2 linked regions of the Homo sapiens genome follow. The protein of the gene in region 1 purifies or fractionates together with the protein of each later gene. This does not show direct contact. Each region holds a gene or a part of one and is shown on either strand. Other genes may lie near its edges.

Evidence for each region.
Region 2: the proteins of EHF (region 1) and CST6 purify together in Homo sapiens (affinity purification with mass spectrometry; 2 studies listed by BioGRID and IntAct, with this or other methods). This does not show direct contact.

The regions. Positions count from the first base shown.
Region 1 is NC_000011.10:34,652,073-34,659,095, reverse strand, and holds part of EHF (ETS homologous factor), read right to left. Parts: intron 2,189-7,023; coding exon 2,126-2,188; intron 564-2,125; coding exon 368-563; intron 265-367; coding exon 165-264; 3' UTR 1-164. UniProt on the Homo sapiens protein: Transcriptional activator that may play a role in regulating epithelial cell differentiation and proliferation.
Region 2 is NC_000011.10:66,007,238-66,014,028, reverse strand, and holds CST6 (cystatin-M precursor), read right to left. Parts: upstream 2,022-6,791; 5' UTR 1,985-2,021; coding exon 1,745-1,984; intron 1,204-1,744; coding exon 1,078-1,203; intron 713-1,077; coding exon 629-712; 3' UTR 524-628; downstream 1-523.

The sequences.
Region 1 (7,023 bases):
TAATCGACCGTAGTGTTTCTTCTTCCCGTTAGAAGTAGTTTCTTGTTCCCCTCATGGTACATAAATATCAGAGAAAAGTAGTCTTTGAAATATTTACGTCCAGGAGTTCTTTGTTTCTGATTATTTGGTGTGTGTTTTGGTTTGTGTCCAAAGTATTGGCAGCTTCAGTTTTCATTTTCTCTCCATCCTCGGGCATTCTTCCCAAATTTATATACCAGTCTTCGTCCATCCACACGCTCCAGAATTTCTCTTTTGTAGTAATATCTGTAACAAAGGAGATTGCATAAGGTGACTGATCCGATGAAGGTTGCTAGGTAAATAATGGGTCGTACAGCCTTTTTGTTTTCAGAGACATGAAACTCCTCACCTCATAGCTCGGCTGAGCTTTTCATAGGTCATGCTGCTGTTGTTCTTCTTTTTACCCCATAGCTGAGCCACTGCCTCTGATTTCAAGAACCTGAAGACGCCCTCAGATCGGTCTTCCCATTTTATTAATCCTGGGTTCTTGTCTGGGTTCAAGAGGATGTCGCGGATGAATTCCCATAAGTGAGTCCCTCTCGGGTCTGATGAAAAGCAGAAAGGCAGGTTACTAATGATCTAAGTCACAGCAAAGATAGGGCAGAGAGCATTGAGTTAGGTCATCTTCCTGCAAGTAGGAGATACTCATTTCTCCCCTACTTGTCAGGGAAGATGGATCGCAGAATCACCAGATGTTGGACATTAAAAAGGTATTTAAGAATAAACTAGCACAATATTTTATTTTACAAATCAGGAAACCGAGGCACAGAGAACTTAAGTGACTTGATCAGGATCACACAGCTAACTAGTGACATAGCCAAGACTAAGCAATAGGTCTTAGGTCTCCTAAGCCAGGGGGAAGTTTCTTCTAGTTATTATCCACAAATTGCTTGGGGTTCACTTCAACCTGTTACTTCCCCAGAGAGCAACTCTCAACCACTTTTATCCAGTATCTCAACCAATTAAATTGCTTTGACCCAGCAACTGTGTTTCAGCCAAATGCAAATCAGTAAGGGTCTAGAATGTTTACTCCCAGAATAGATGAGGGTGGTAGGGAAAGGGGTGGTCACGCAGGGACTGGAGGACCCAATTTGAAAATGAAGCCACTACTGCAATAAGATTATCAACCAAATTCAACTTTACTCCCACTGAATTTTTGATGCCCCACCCCCACCCCACCCACCTTTCGAGGGGTTGCATTAATATGGTTTTGTGGGATTATGTGAAAGAGCAGATAAAGACATTCTAATTCCTCATAATTTCTGGATTATACCTTTTTTTTTTTTCTGAGACAGGATATCACTCTGTGGCCCAAGCTGGAGTACAGTGGTGCAATTACAGTTCATCACAGCCTAGACCTCCCTGGCTCAAGCAATCCTCCTGCCTCAGTCTCCCAAGTAGATGGGACTACAGGCACGTGCCACCATGCCCAGCTAATTTTTGTATTTTTTTGTAGAGATGGGGTCTCGTCATGTTTCCCAAGCTGGTCTTGAACTCCTGAGCTCAAGTGATCCACCCACCTCAGTCTCCCAAAGTGGTGGGATTACAGGCCTAGATTATACCATCTTGATTTCTTTCTGTGTTCCACCCACAATTCCATGTCTCTGATATTTCGTATATGTTCATAAGATTTTATTACTGAAGGAGACCCAACTCCCAAAGAGCAGTGTTGAATCTTAAGAAAAAACAGTCATTTCTTGGAATGGTAACTCCACAAAGGTAGGAGGCCAACATTTAGCAAAAGAAAGGATGATACATCTCAGCTGTTTCTTCTTATCTCGCTCCTCTTCCCACCCTTTTCTTCTGGGAGAGAGGAAATTGCCAACCCCATGCCTGCAAGCAGTTCTTAGGCACTGGGTGTCTCAGTTTTAGAGCACATATGACAGAACAGGGAGGAAATGTCCAGTGGGGCTCCACTTTGAGAAACAGCTGCAGAGGGGGCTTACTTTGCTAGCAAGTGATGCCTCTATTTTCTCACTCCACCCTGTTTGGGATGAAGACATGAAGGCAGCAGACAGAGGCGATATTTGCCAAAAAACTAGTGGCCTCCAGATGTGCCCGATGTGATGGGAAGGACCAAAGGCCATCTGAAAGCCAGCCAACTTACTGTGCTTTTTGGTGTGGCACTTGGCAGGGGGGTCTTGCTCCTTTTTCATATCAGGTGACTCTGCTAAGGAGAAAAATGAGAGGCGTTTAATTGACCTATTTCCTATAATTCTCTTTTTTATTCATGCATCCACTCATTTAAACAATATTTACTGAGCACCTACTGCATGCCTGGCACCTTTGAGTATGTGCTAGTGAACCAAACAAAACAGAGATGATAAATGCTATGGAGAAAAATGATGCAGGTTAAGAAATGGAGATAGATGTATGGACTTGGGAATAATTTGCAATTTGATACAAGGTGGTCATAGGAGACCTCTCTGATTCCACGACCTAAAGGATATGAGGGAAAAGGTCATGCAGAGAGCTTGTGCAACAGCCTTCCATGTGTAACATAGAAGTGCAAAGGCCCTGAGGTTGATGTGTGTTTGGTATATGCATGCTGTAAGAGGCAGAGAGGGAGGAGCTGAGGTTCTGATCATTAATCCCTTATGGGACTTTTAAGGACATGACTCTGAGAAAGATGGAAGCCATTGAAAGATTTAGATCATTGAAAAATTTGTGGTTTTTTTTTTTTAGCATAATAGAAAAATGTAAACATTTATAACAAAGGAAGATGACTTTTAAGCCAGAGGAGTGCCCTTTTTTGGCATGCAAAGTTACATTTTAATCAGCCTGACAAAGGCGCCATTGAGTGGCCCAAGCTCAATACAGAGGGCCACAGTGGACTATGGAAACACAGATTAGTTTAACAAATGACTCATTATGGCAACCTCTGCGACTATTACCAAAGAGGAGATGATGGAGGCGGACCTGGGAAATAAAAATTCTTCTCAGAAAGAAAACTAAATGATCTAGCCGTGTGTGTGTGAGTGTGAGTGTGTGTGTGTATATGTGTGTGTGTGTGTGTGTGTGTGTATTGGGAGGACCAAAGTAGATCTTACAAAGACTCTCACACTCAAAAATCAGCCAATTTTAATACAAAGTAGTCCCTAAATACAAGCCAATTATTTTAAGAAATTGGGCCAGTAAAACTGATCTCTTTCATGTGCCCTTCCTAAACTAGGGTCCACTGACCCAGTGTGGCCTTCAAGGGCCCCTGGACTGACTGAAACCATATATGAAGGGAGAGGGTTCACAGCATCCATTCAATTATCAGGAGAAGCCTATTATTCAAAAAAGCTATGAACTGCCAGCCATTAGCTCCTAATTAAATTGGTTAAGAAAAAAAAGCTACTGTTTATTGAGCACTTACTATGTACCAGGCACTGTACTAAGCACTTTAAATGAATCACTTTATTTAATTCACACAATAACTCTATGACACAGGTACTAATATGATCCACAGTTTTCAGCTGTGGAGGATCTGAGAAACAGAGGGGTCAAATGACTTGACTAGAGTCACACAGCTGGAATGTGGAGCCAGGATATGAACACAAACAGTTTGAATCCAGAAGCTTTACTCATAACCATGATTCTATGTCATTTCCAGAAATGGTGGCCGGCACATAATCTCCCTTTGCACATAACAGATTTCACACAAGCCTTTCTTGCCAAGAATCAGGTTCACTTCTGTAATGCTCTTGTTAGTAGAAAAGATAATTTCAATCTGACAATTCTATATTTCCCAACGTTCATGGGCCCTTTCAACCATCTTATCACCCAGCTAATCAAGACTCAGTGTTCCCAGCAATTTCTCGAAACGTCATGGCAGGATGGAGAGAGGGATTTAATAAGACCTCAGTAAACAAGAAACCTCTCATCCTGGTTAAGAATTTCTCTCCTGGCATTGTCACTAGCAGGGCCTGCACCTGACTTGGGTTTCTCTGAAATCCGAGAGGACAAATTCACAGGAAATGCAAGGAGACTTCACTCTCCCTCCCTGTAGGTTGCAGGGTGAGGTTGCAACATCCCATCAGGATGTGACAATATTGCGACAGGTCTGGCATCCACCCCGGTTTCCAAGTGATACATCACTCTGACAGGGCCACGTTGTACTGCAGACAAAGAGTGGCATTTACCCAGCAGGCCACAAGCAAAGCTCATTTTCAAATGACATCCAGGAGGGATGCAGGGCCATTATTTCAGAGCCAGGAGTTGAATTCAGAAAAATACAAGAGTCTCTCAGTATATTGGCCTCAATTATTGTTTGTGGGTTCCTAGTTGATCTAGAATCAGTTACTTCAGAGTTCAGGTGCCTTTGTGAATAAGACGAAAACCTTGGACCCTCTCCTCAGAAAAAAATGCACATATATGTACACATGAAATTTTGTCAACAATTTCAGGGGGCTGTGGCCCATGCAGCAGTCCATGGACTCTAAAACCTCTACACTAGATAAACCATGAGGAAATATTCTTTGAGTTGTCAGCCGTTTACCCAAGCTAGGCTCCACCCAGCTAGGAACGTTCTTTTTTTAATCCCCAAATAAAAATCTTTCCATCATCATAAAGGGGAATAAGCAGTCAAAGGCAAAAGAAGAACCTAATTTCTTCCAGACCTCTCTGCCTGTTGCAGTGTGCAGGGGTAAGCCGTGGAATCACTGGCCTGCTTTACCACTGATATCTTTTGATCTTTAACCTCTCTTTAATATGTGTCCTTCTTCTGCCCTAGGATAAAAGTCAAGACCTTTGAAGTTAGCCATGTGGTTAAGTGATTCATTCTTATAAAATAATGGCTTGCCCTGGAGAAGTTGTCCAGCCTGGCTTTCTCTTGCTTGGCTCCCAGGCACTCCAGGCCAAGGTCCTATCCAGTCCAGGCAGGGGCAGCAACAAGCCACAGGTTTGTGATGCAAGTGAGAGAGCGTGACTTCAGCTAAGCTGCTTCGCAAGAAGCAAAGATTAGAAGCATTTGCATATGATTCAGCTGTGAGCCATTTCTTTACGGGATATACAAATTTCAGTGTTCTAATAGACCGTGCCACCCTAGCTTTAGGCTCAACAAGTCAGTGGATAAACACATCAAGCCCGAGCTGGCATGACAGGCTGGAGGACTGTCGAGCAGAACAGGACACCGGCAGCGGGCATTTTATGAAATGGGCAGATGACAGAGAAATCAAAACAAAGCCTATTTCCCCACCTGCGTTTATCACAGAGGGCATCAGTTTACGCTGGGCCTCGCCTTAGCTCAGCTGGTAACTAGCATTAAAACATAGAAAGATATTTCACTGCATTCAATTACATGGGAGCTCGAAAAATAAAGACTCAGGCAAATGACCAAGGTTTTTCCGGGGTTCTGCTTCCATGCAGTAGAGACTATAAACTATTCTGAAAGAAACTGACCCATATAAGGCTGTAATTAACTATCCTACTGAAGGGCTATTACCCCAATGAATACACCAACCCCAGAGACTGCATTGATTCTTTAGGGCCTGGGTGATTGATCTCATTTTCCAGCCTGGGTTACAATCACAGGATAGAAATGGGGAGCTGCAGCAAACAAGGATCAGAAGGGTAAGGAGAGAAGATTCCTGAGCCCATCTTAAGAAGGACTATTGAAAAATACAATCGGTGGACTCAGGAGAGAGCGAGTTCCTTGCTACTGCAAATGCAAAAGCAGAAACTGGCCTCTAAGGCCCCTATTGATTTTGAGATTCTAGAAGGTGTAAGTCAAGATGTAGAAAAGAGGATGGCCCAGCTGTCAGGGCAGCAGAGCTGTAACTATGATGTTTTTGTTTCCCGGGTGCCTCAAGACCTACTAGCCCCTGAGGCTCAGGAAGTGGTTGGTTCAGCTTTATTCTTAGTTGGAATTTTTTGCCGTAAGTCAAAGACCCAAGTGGAAGGATGGAAGGATGGAAGGATGGAAGGATGGAAGGATGGAAGGATGGAAGGATGTGGGAGATGACACTGTAGGAAGTCGCAGAGGAACTCAGAGTGTGACTTGGGAGGTTTCCTCAGCCCTGAACCCCATGGTCTTGACTGAGTGGCAATGATTGCCACAGAAATTTTACCCCGGTTGGCTCAGTTCCCCCAGAATAGCAAATACACAGCCAAGCCTTGCCAGTGTTTGATCTATTCCCTAATTTTAACAAATACCTCAAGTGACACATAATGCTAAGGACCACTGGGGGAAGGAGAAGTCGAGAGCTATGCTGGCCTCAGCTCTTAATCTCAATTCCAGAAGCATTTACATTGGCTCCCAGCCCCATCTCATTTAAGGGGCTTGACCCAAACAAAACCTCAAACCAAAACCTTTCATTATTTCAGTTCTCAAAAGCAAAAACAAAAACAGAAAAAAAGAGGAAGGAAGGGTTGCAGACTAATTTCTTTCACAAAGACCCAATTAAATCCCATTTCTGAAGTTGCTCCAAATTTAATTCCAGGAGAGAGGCACTATCACTTGTGACTGATGTCTAAGTGCCATTTCATAGACCCAAAGAGATCCACAAGTTCATACTCAGATCACGGGAAACCATAAGATCCTCTTTCAACCATTTCCCACACTGTACACGCCAATGCACCTATTTGTAGGTGGGGGTGGTAATCTGAAATCCCCTCTCCCAGACTCCCAACATCCCAAACTTCTCACCCAGTGTAACCTTGGTTAAGGAGCATGGATAGCCCCAGTTGCATCCAAGCTTAACCAAATGCAGCTAAAGTGAACGTAACTCATAAAATGCAGGTGCTCTGACTGATTAGAGAGCACTGATGAGTCATCGGAATTAGACTTAAAAACTGACAAAATAGTGTAACTGTGGGGATTCTGGAAGTTTCCAATGGCTACCCCTTCACCCAGAAACTATCACTACAGGTTCACGGACCTTTGAATTTTACTATGAGGTATTCTTTCTCTAAAGCCAAATGTAGTTTGTTGAAAATTAAATATAGCCTTATTTCCCATAAGTATACCCAAATATGAATAATTTTAGCAGCTATATTGCAAGAGTAAGTTTTCATTGAAAA
Region 2 (6,791 bases), about 31 Mb from region 1:
GGCACTGTCCTAGCCTTCATGGTCTCTTGGCCTGCAGGGACTCTGCCATCGTTGGGCCACATGCAGGTGGAGGAATCTTTATAGGCTGGGAGCTCAGTGTCCTGGGTGAGGACACTGCCTGATTGAAGCCCCCCATGCCACCCATGAGCTCCTCCTGGGGCTGAGTGGGAGCACAGCACAGACTCCTCCTCAGAGTGCTCCCAGGCAGCCGGCCCTGTTCTTATCTCAGGCCATCGCCCCTCCTCTGTGAGTCTGCCGCCACCCCTGACCTCTGAGAATATTGGGAGTCTCTGGCTGTGTGTGGGGGCTCTAAGGTTTGTTCCTCTATGCCTGTGATGCTGGGGTGTTTGGGGGCTCCACATTTGGAGGCTCAGCCCTGCACCTTCAGCACTGTCTGGGCTGGGACAGCAGCAGCTCTGCTGCAGGTGGCAGGGTGACCTCTCAGCTTGGGCTGGGGAGCTGGGAGCTGCCAGAAGTGGGAGTGGGGGATGGGGGCAGAAGCGAAGCACTTGGAAGAAACCAATGCAAGAAGCAGCACTGGCCATTTATTGTGACAGATACGGCCCACGGACCTGAAGTGCCCTCCACCATGGCCCCAAACCCAATGGCCTTCGCCCTCGGGGACTTATCACATCTGCACACAGTTGTGCTTTAGGAGCTGAGAGGAGTTCTGCCAGGGAACCACAAGGACCTCAAAGTCACAGCGCAGCTTCTGTGGAGGGAATATGGGGGAGAAGGAGGGGTGAGCCCAGCCTCGACCTGTCTCCTCCCAACAGCCAGCCCTCTGCCTGCCAGGCTGCTCCAGGCCAAGAGAGGGACAATCACTGACCCAACGGATGTCAAGCCGCATGTCTGGGGCTAGACTCCAGATCTTGGTAGCCAACTTCCCCATTCCCGAGGGAAGCCCCAGCTTCCTTTCTGCACCCCATCTTGGCCCAGAGGCTGACTCATCCAGAAGGACGACAGGTTCAGCCAGACATCTAGACATCTACGTGTCCAGCCAAACCAGTTCAGGATGGACAACCTGAGTGCCTGAGGCTCTGGGGAGGGCTGGGGCTGGAGGAGCCCAGCTGTTACCTCCTGCTGCGCCCCTGCTGCCAGGGGGCAAGTGGTGAGGTCGACGTGGTCTCCAGTGACCCTGGTCTTGCGGCAGTCTGTGCTCCCCATCTCCATCGTCAGGAAGTACTTGATGCCGGCCACCAGCTGGGGGCATAGGGTAGGGGCAGGTCAGGGGTCTTGACCCTTGATCCTCACTTCTCACCTCTTGATATATTCTCCTGTTGCCCCCAGGCACTCAGGTGGGGAGAGAGGGAGAGGGGATGATTCAGACGGGGTGGGGGGGGGTGGGGGGGGGTGGGGGGGGGAGTTCTGGTGGGGATGGAGGGTGGAGAGGCCTGGAGGCTGAGCCCCACCAGCAGCCTTGGCAGACATCAGACATGCCCCATCTAGGGAGCTGCCCACTGTCCCCACCTGCCTTCCCTCCTCCCCGATCCACCCCATCAGGGCAGAGACTAGGACCAGGCAAGCCAGGAAGGCAGGTAGTGCAATACAGGGTTTAATTATGTCTTTCCTTGAAATTTAGATGGTTGTCCATCGTGGAGTTTTAGCATTAATTCGATTTTTAAAATATTGCATGAAAATATCCCGATTGCGCTTTTAGGCCCCCTTCATGCACGCTGGGGCAGCGCCTGTGGCCTCCCCCATCTGGGCCGGGTGTCCCCTCCCAGCACCCCGCCCGCCGCACCTGGCTCTGCGCCTTGATGATGTGCGTGTCTCGGAAGTAGTAGATGCTGTTGCTGCCCATGTTGTAGCTGGCCACGGCCGCCTGCGCCGCCTTCTGCACCTGCGGGTCGTCGGGCGACAGGTCCCGGAGTTCTCCGACCATGCGCTCCTGCGGCCGGGCCCGGGCGTCGCGTGGCAGCGCCAGGAGGCAGAATGCGACCAGGGCCAGGCCCAGCGCCAGCGGGAGGTTCGAACGCGCCATGGCCGTCAGTGCCGTCGGAGCCCTCAGAGCCGTGAGTGCCGAGCTTGCGGCCGCGCAGCTTTTACCCGCTGGGCCGCCCCGCCCGACGCCCGCGATGCGCCCCCGCGGCCTGGAGCTGGGGCGGGGCTCGAAGTTGCCGGGGTCCTGCGAGGTTCAGGGAGCCCAGGAGGCCGAGGGGGCGGCGCGCACCCGCGTGCCAAGACGCTTCCCTGCCCTCCAGGACACACCTGGCCCGGGGAGGGAGAGGACAGCGACAGTCCCCAGCAACAAGTGCCAGTACAGGGACGGTTCACGGGAGGGCTGTCCAGAATGAACTACCAACCGCAGCTCTTCGTGGGCTCTTACTGTTGCCACCATTTCCTAGCTGTGTAACCTCGGAGAAGTCACTTAACCACTCGCTGCCTCAGTTTCCTCTTCTGTACAATGGGTGTTGTGAGGATTCAGTGAGCTGAAACAGGTAAAGTTCTTAGAAGAGGTCTGGTGCTGGATAAACAGCAGGTGAGTAGGACACATTACTGCTCAGCGCTGCCTGACAACCTTCCTGGAGCGCGAGTGACTAATGTTTCTACCTGGCCAGGCACCTAGGCATGCTTGTAATTCCAGCACTTTGAGAGGCCAAGGTGGGAGGACCACTTGAGCCAAGGAGTTCAAGTCAGTGAATCGTGATCTCACCACTGCAGCATTCCAGCCTGGGCGACAGAGCTAGACGCTGACTCAAAAAAAAAAAAAAAAAAAAAAAAAAAAAAGAAGGCCGGGCATGAGGGCTCACACTTGTAATCCCAGCACTTTGGGAGGCCGAGGCAGGCAGATCACTTGAGGTCAGGAGTTCAAGACCAGCCTGGCCAACATGGTGAAACCCCGTCTCTACCAAAAATACAAAAATTAGCCAGGCGTGGTGGCACACACCTGAATTCCCAGCTACTCAGAAGGCTGAGGCAGGGGAATTGCTTGAACCTGGGAGGCAGAGGTTGCAGTGAGCCAAAATGGCACCACTGCGCTCTAGCCTGGGTGACAGAGAGAGACTCTGTCTCACAAAAAAAAAAAAGAAAAAAGAAAAAAAATAGTTTCCACTTTACAGAGAAGGGAAAATGGATTTGCCCAAAGACACCGGCAGGAAATAAATGGTGACACTGGCTTGTGTGTGCTGACAGTCTAAGTCAAATCTGTGGTCTTAAACCAGACTGAGCCCACAGGACACAAACTGCCCAGAAGGAGGGGGTGTCAGTCATGTCAGCTCTGCCATCTTACTGACGGCATGGCTTTGGGCAAGTCCCTCAACCTCCCACACAGAGCCTCCGTGCCCTCGTCTGAAAGACACCTTATCTCCTAAGTTTGTTCTGATATTGATGTTTCGAATCTGGCTGTCCCGTGGATACAGTGAGCATGTGCTGGAGGTACCAGCAAACAAGGCCCATGACTGTGTTTTTAAAGACTCCAATAATTGCCAGGTGTGGTGGCTCACGCCTGTAATCCCAGCACTTTGGGAGGCCGAGGTGGGCAGATCACTTGAGGCCAGGAGTTCGAGACCAGCCTGGCCAACATGGTGAAACCCCATCATAGCCCGCACGGACCTAGGGGGACTGAACAAAGCCGGGCAAACGTGGGAATAAAAGACAAGAGACAAAAGAGTATATTTGGAAGAAGGGGTCAGGGGGCACCTTGCCTCTAGTGGACAAGGGCCCTGAGCTTTACACAGCCCTCTGTATGTAGTAGGCAAAAGAGATAGCGAGAAAGGGGGAGGGTGATTGTCGGGTATGTCAGGTAATTGTCGGTCAGCACTTTGGTTCACAGCAGGCTTGTGAGACTGCATCCTTTGAACAATAGGTGCTAATTTTCTCAGTAGATAACTTCAGGGACCCCAGTGCCAAGGAGTAAGGCCCTCAGCAAACCTTTTGGTGGCAGGGCAGTGGGAGTTTGCCCACATCCTGCATTCGTGATAAACAGGTGGCTGTTTGATCATATAGCCTTCAGTGGAATGCTGAGTTGGTCACAATCCCTTTGGCCCTTTCGGCTCCCAACACCCCATCTCTACTAAAAATACAAAAATTAGCTGGGTGTGGTGGTGCACACCTGTAGTCTCAGCTACTTGGGAGGCTGAGGTGGGTGAATCACTTGAACCTGGGAGGCAGAGGTTGCAGTGAGCTGAGACGGCACCCACTGCACTCCAGCCTGGGTGACAGAGCAAGACTCTATCTCAAAAAAAAAAGACTCCAATAATTAATTGATTATTATTAATAGGTGGTGATCTATTAATCACACGGTAGCTCACACCTGTAATCCCAGGACTTTGGGAGTCGGAAGCAGGAGGATCACTTGAGGCCAGGAGTTTGAGACCAGCCTGGGCAACATAGTGAGCCGTCTCTACCAAAAAATCTAAAATAAATTAGCTGTGCATGGTGGTGCACGCCTGTGGTCCCAGCTACTCGGGAGGCTGAGGTGGGAGGATTACTAGAGTCTGGGAGGTCGAGGCTGCAGTGAGCAGTGATGGTGCCACTGCACTCCACCTGGGTGACAGAGCAAGACTCTGTCTCAAAAAAAAAAAGGAACAGATGAAAAGCAGTGTTGAAGTAGTCAACGCAAGAAAAGTCTGGATTTTGTTGAATTTTTTTTTTTTTTTGTGACAGCGCTCTGTCAGCCAGGCTAGAGTGCAGTGGCGCTATCATAGCTCACTATAACTCGACTTCCTGGCTTCAAGCTATCCTCCCATCTCAGCCTCCCAAGTAGCTGGGACCACAGGCGCATGCCCCCATGCCTGGTTAATTTTTTTCCACACCTGGCTAATTCTTATATTTTTTTGTAGAGATGGGGTCTCACAGTAGTGCCAGGTGGGTCTCGAATGCCTGGCCTCAAGAGATCACGAGATCCTCCCACCTCAGCTTCCCAAAATGCTGGGATTACAGGCAGGCCTTGGAATTATTTGTCTGCATTTTAGAGTTCAGTGTAGTTTGTATTTGTAATTCCATGTTGCTGGGGGGCGGGGCTTATTGTCCCTGGGGCACTAAGATCTTGCAGTGCTTAGAGCCTCCAGGGGCTTCACTGGGGCTTGGAAGAGGTGCTAGGTCACAGTACGTAAAGAGCAGCTGGCAACTGTCACTGTGATGGATATTGTATGTAGGCATCCAGCGTGTCACCCTCCCTTCCTGATTCTGGGCCTTAGAATCCCAGGACCACAAAAGGAAGTGATTTCCCACACAGAGACCTAGACCACAGCGGTCACTCACTGCCCAGGGCAGCTGCCAGCCTGCTACCCACCTCACTTCCTCAGCCCAGCTGTGGAAAACCAACTCTGCCATCTTCCTGGGATTCCAAGGAACCGTCACAAGTTCCTGGCGGCCTCAGGTGTCTGGCTTAAAGGGACAGACTCCAGTTTGTGGAAGTGCTGGCCGAGCTTGAGTTGATCAGGAGGATGACGCCTGGCCAGGACTCTGAGCTGAAAGCCTGGGAGGGGTAGAGGAAGAGTACCAGGATCGTGCCACAGGGGCGAGGTGGGAGAGGCAGCTCCCCTGGGCCTGCTGTGTCATCACTTGGAGCTTAGCCATGGCCACAGGTACCTCCAACAGCTCTCTCAAAAACTAGCCAAGGCCTGTCTGCCACTCACCAAGGGCACCCACTCCACCTGCCTCTGCTTTGTGCTGATGCAAAGGACTTTTTTTGCAGTACAACCTAGCAATTTCTGAGCACTTTTCACCCACTGATTCTCACAAGCACCCTGAGGGAGTACACATTATCCTCACTTTGCAGATGAAGAAGTTAATCAGAGAGGTCGGGACACTTGTCTAAGGTCACACAGCTAGAAGTGGTATCTTGGTAAGAAAAGGTGGGGAGGATTAACAATGGTAAGAACTCTTGCTGTGTGCCAGGCCTTGCGCCAGGGATTCAATATATGTTCTTTCATTCCCATAGCAGCTCTGCACAGACAATGACTATTATCTCTTCCTACAAGGAGGAAATGGGAGATCAAAGGGGAAAGGTTAGTGGTGGGTCCCGGTGCATGAGTCCTGGGCTGCTCCACAGGGGTTTGAGGTCTGCTGTGCATGGTGTAGGGGTTGTTTCTTGCAGATGGGGTGTCCCTGAGCAGACTTTCCCAGGGCCTGACTCCATCCCGTCTGGACCACTCTGGCTTCCAGGAGGTTTGCGCCAAGCGTGAGCTTGAGGTCGGTCAAATGTACTGGCCACAGGGCAGAGCCTCCAGTTTTGCAGTGGCCCAGACATCCCACCCCAGGTTGTCCACAGCACCCCTCTCTTGCCCCTGGCCTGATGGGTGGAGATGACCAGGGCAGGTTCTTGACATCTCCTTCCCTCTGGGATCAGGCTCTCCAAGGCTTCGATGCTTCCCCCAGAACCCTCTTCCTTGAACCTTCAGTTGGGCAGAGGATATTGCCCTCCCCCCAGGGCTCTGTAGCCCCATATCCTGGAAAGGAGATCTTTCAGCAAGGAAACCTGTAATCCAACAGGGATTAAAGCTCCCCTCTGGGGAGGAGCGCTCCTAAGCGCTGCTGATTCACTGGTTGAATCTTCACAACCCTGTTATCAGCTGGCAGAGGAGGCTGTAGCTCAGGGGAGTGAAGCAACTTGCTCCAGATCGCATGGGGAGCAAAGCCCCAGAATCGGGCCTGGCTGGCTCTTCAAGGCTGCCACCAGTCAAGGTTGGGAGTGACAGGAAAGAGCCCTGGTCCCCACAGGGAGGGGCCAGCCTGGAAAGGGATCAACAGTCACAAGCACCTGCTGGGAGCCTTCCATGCTCAGCAGGCTGCCGGGGGCAGGGCTTGTGGTGGTCCAGGTAGCCTCCCCCTACTTCCTTTCTGGG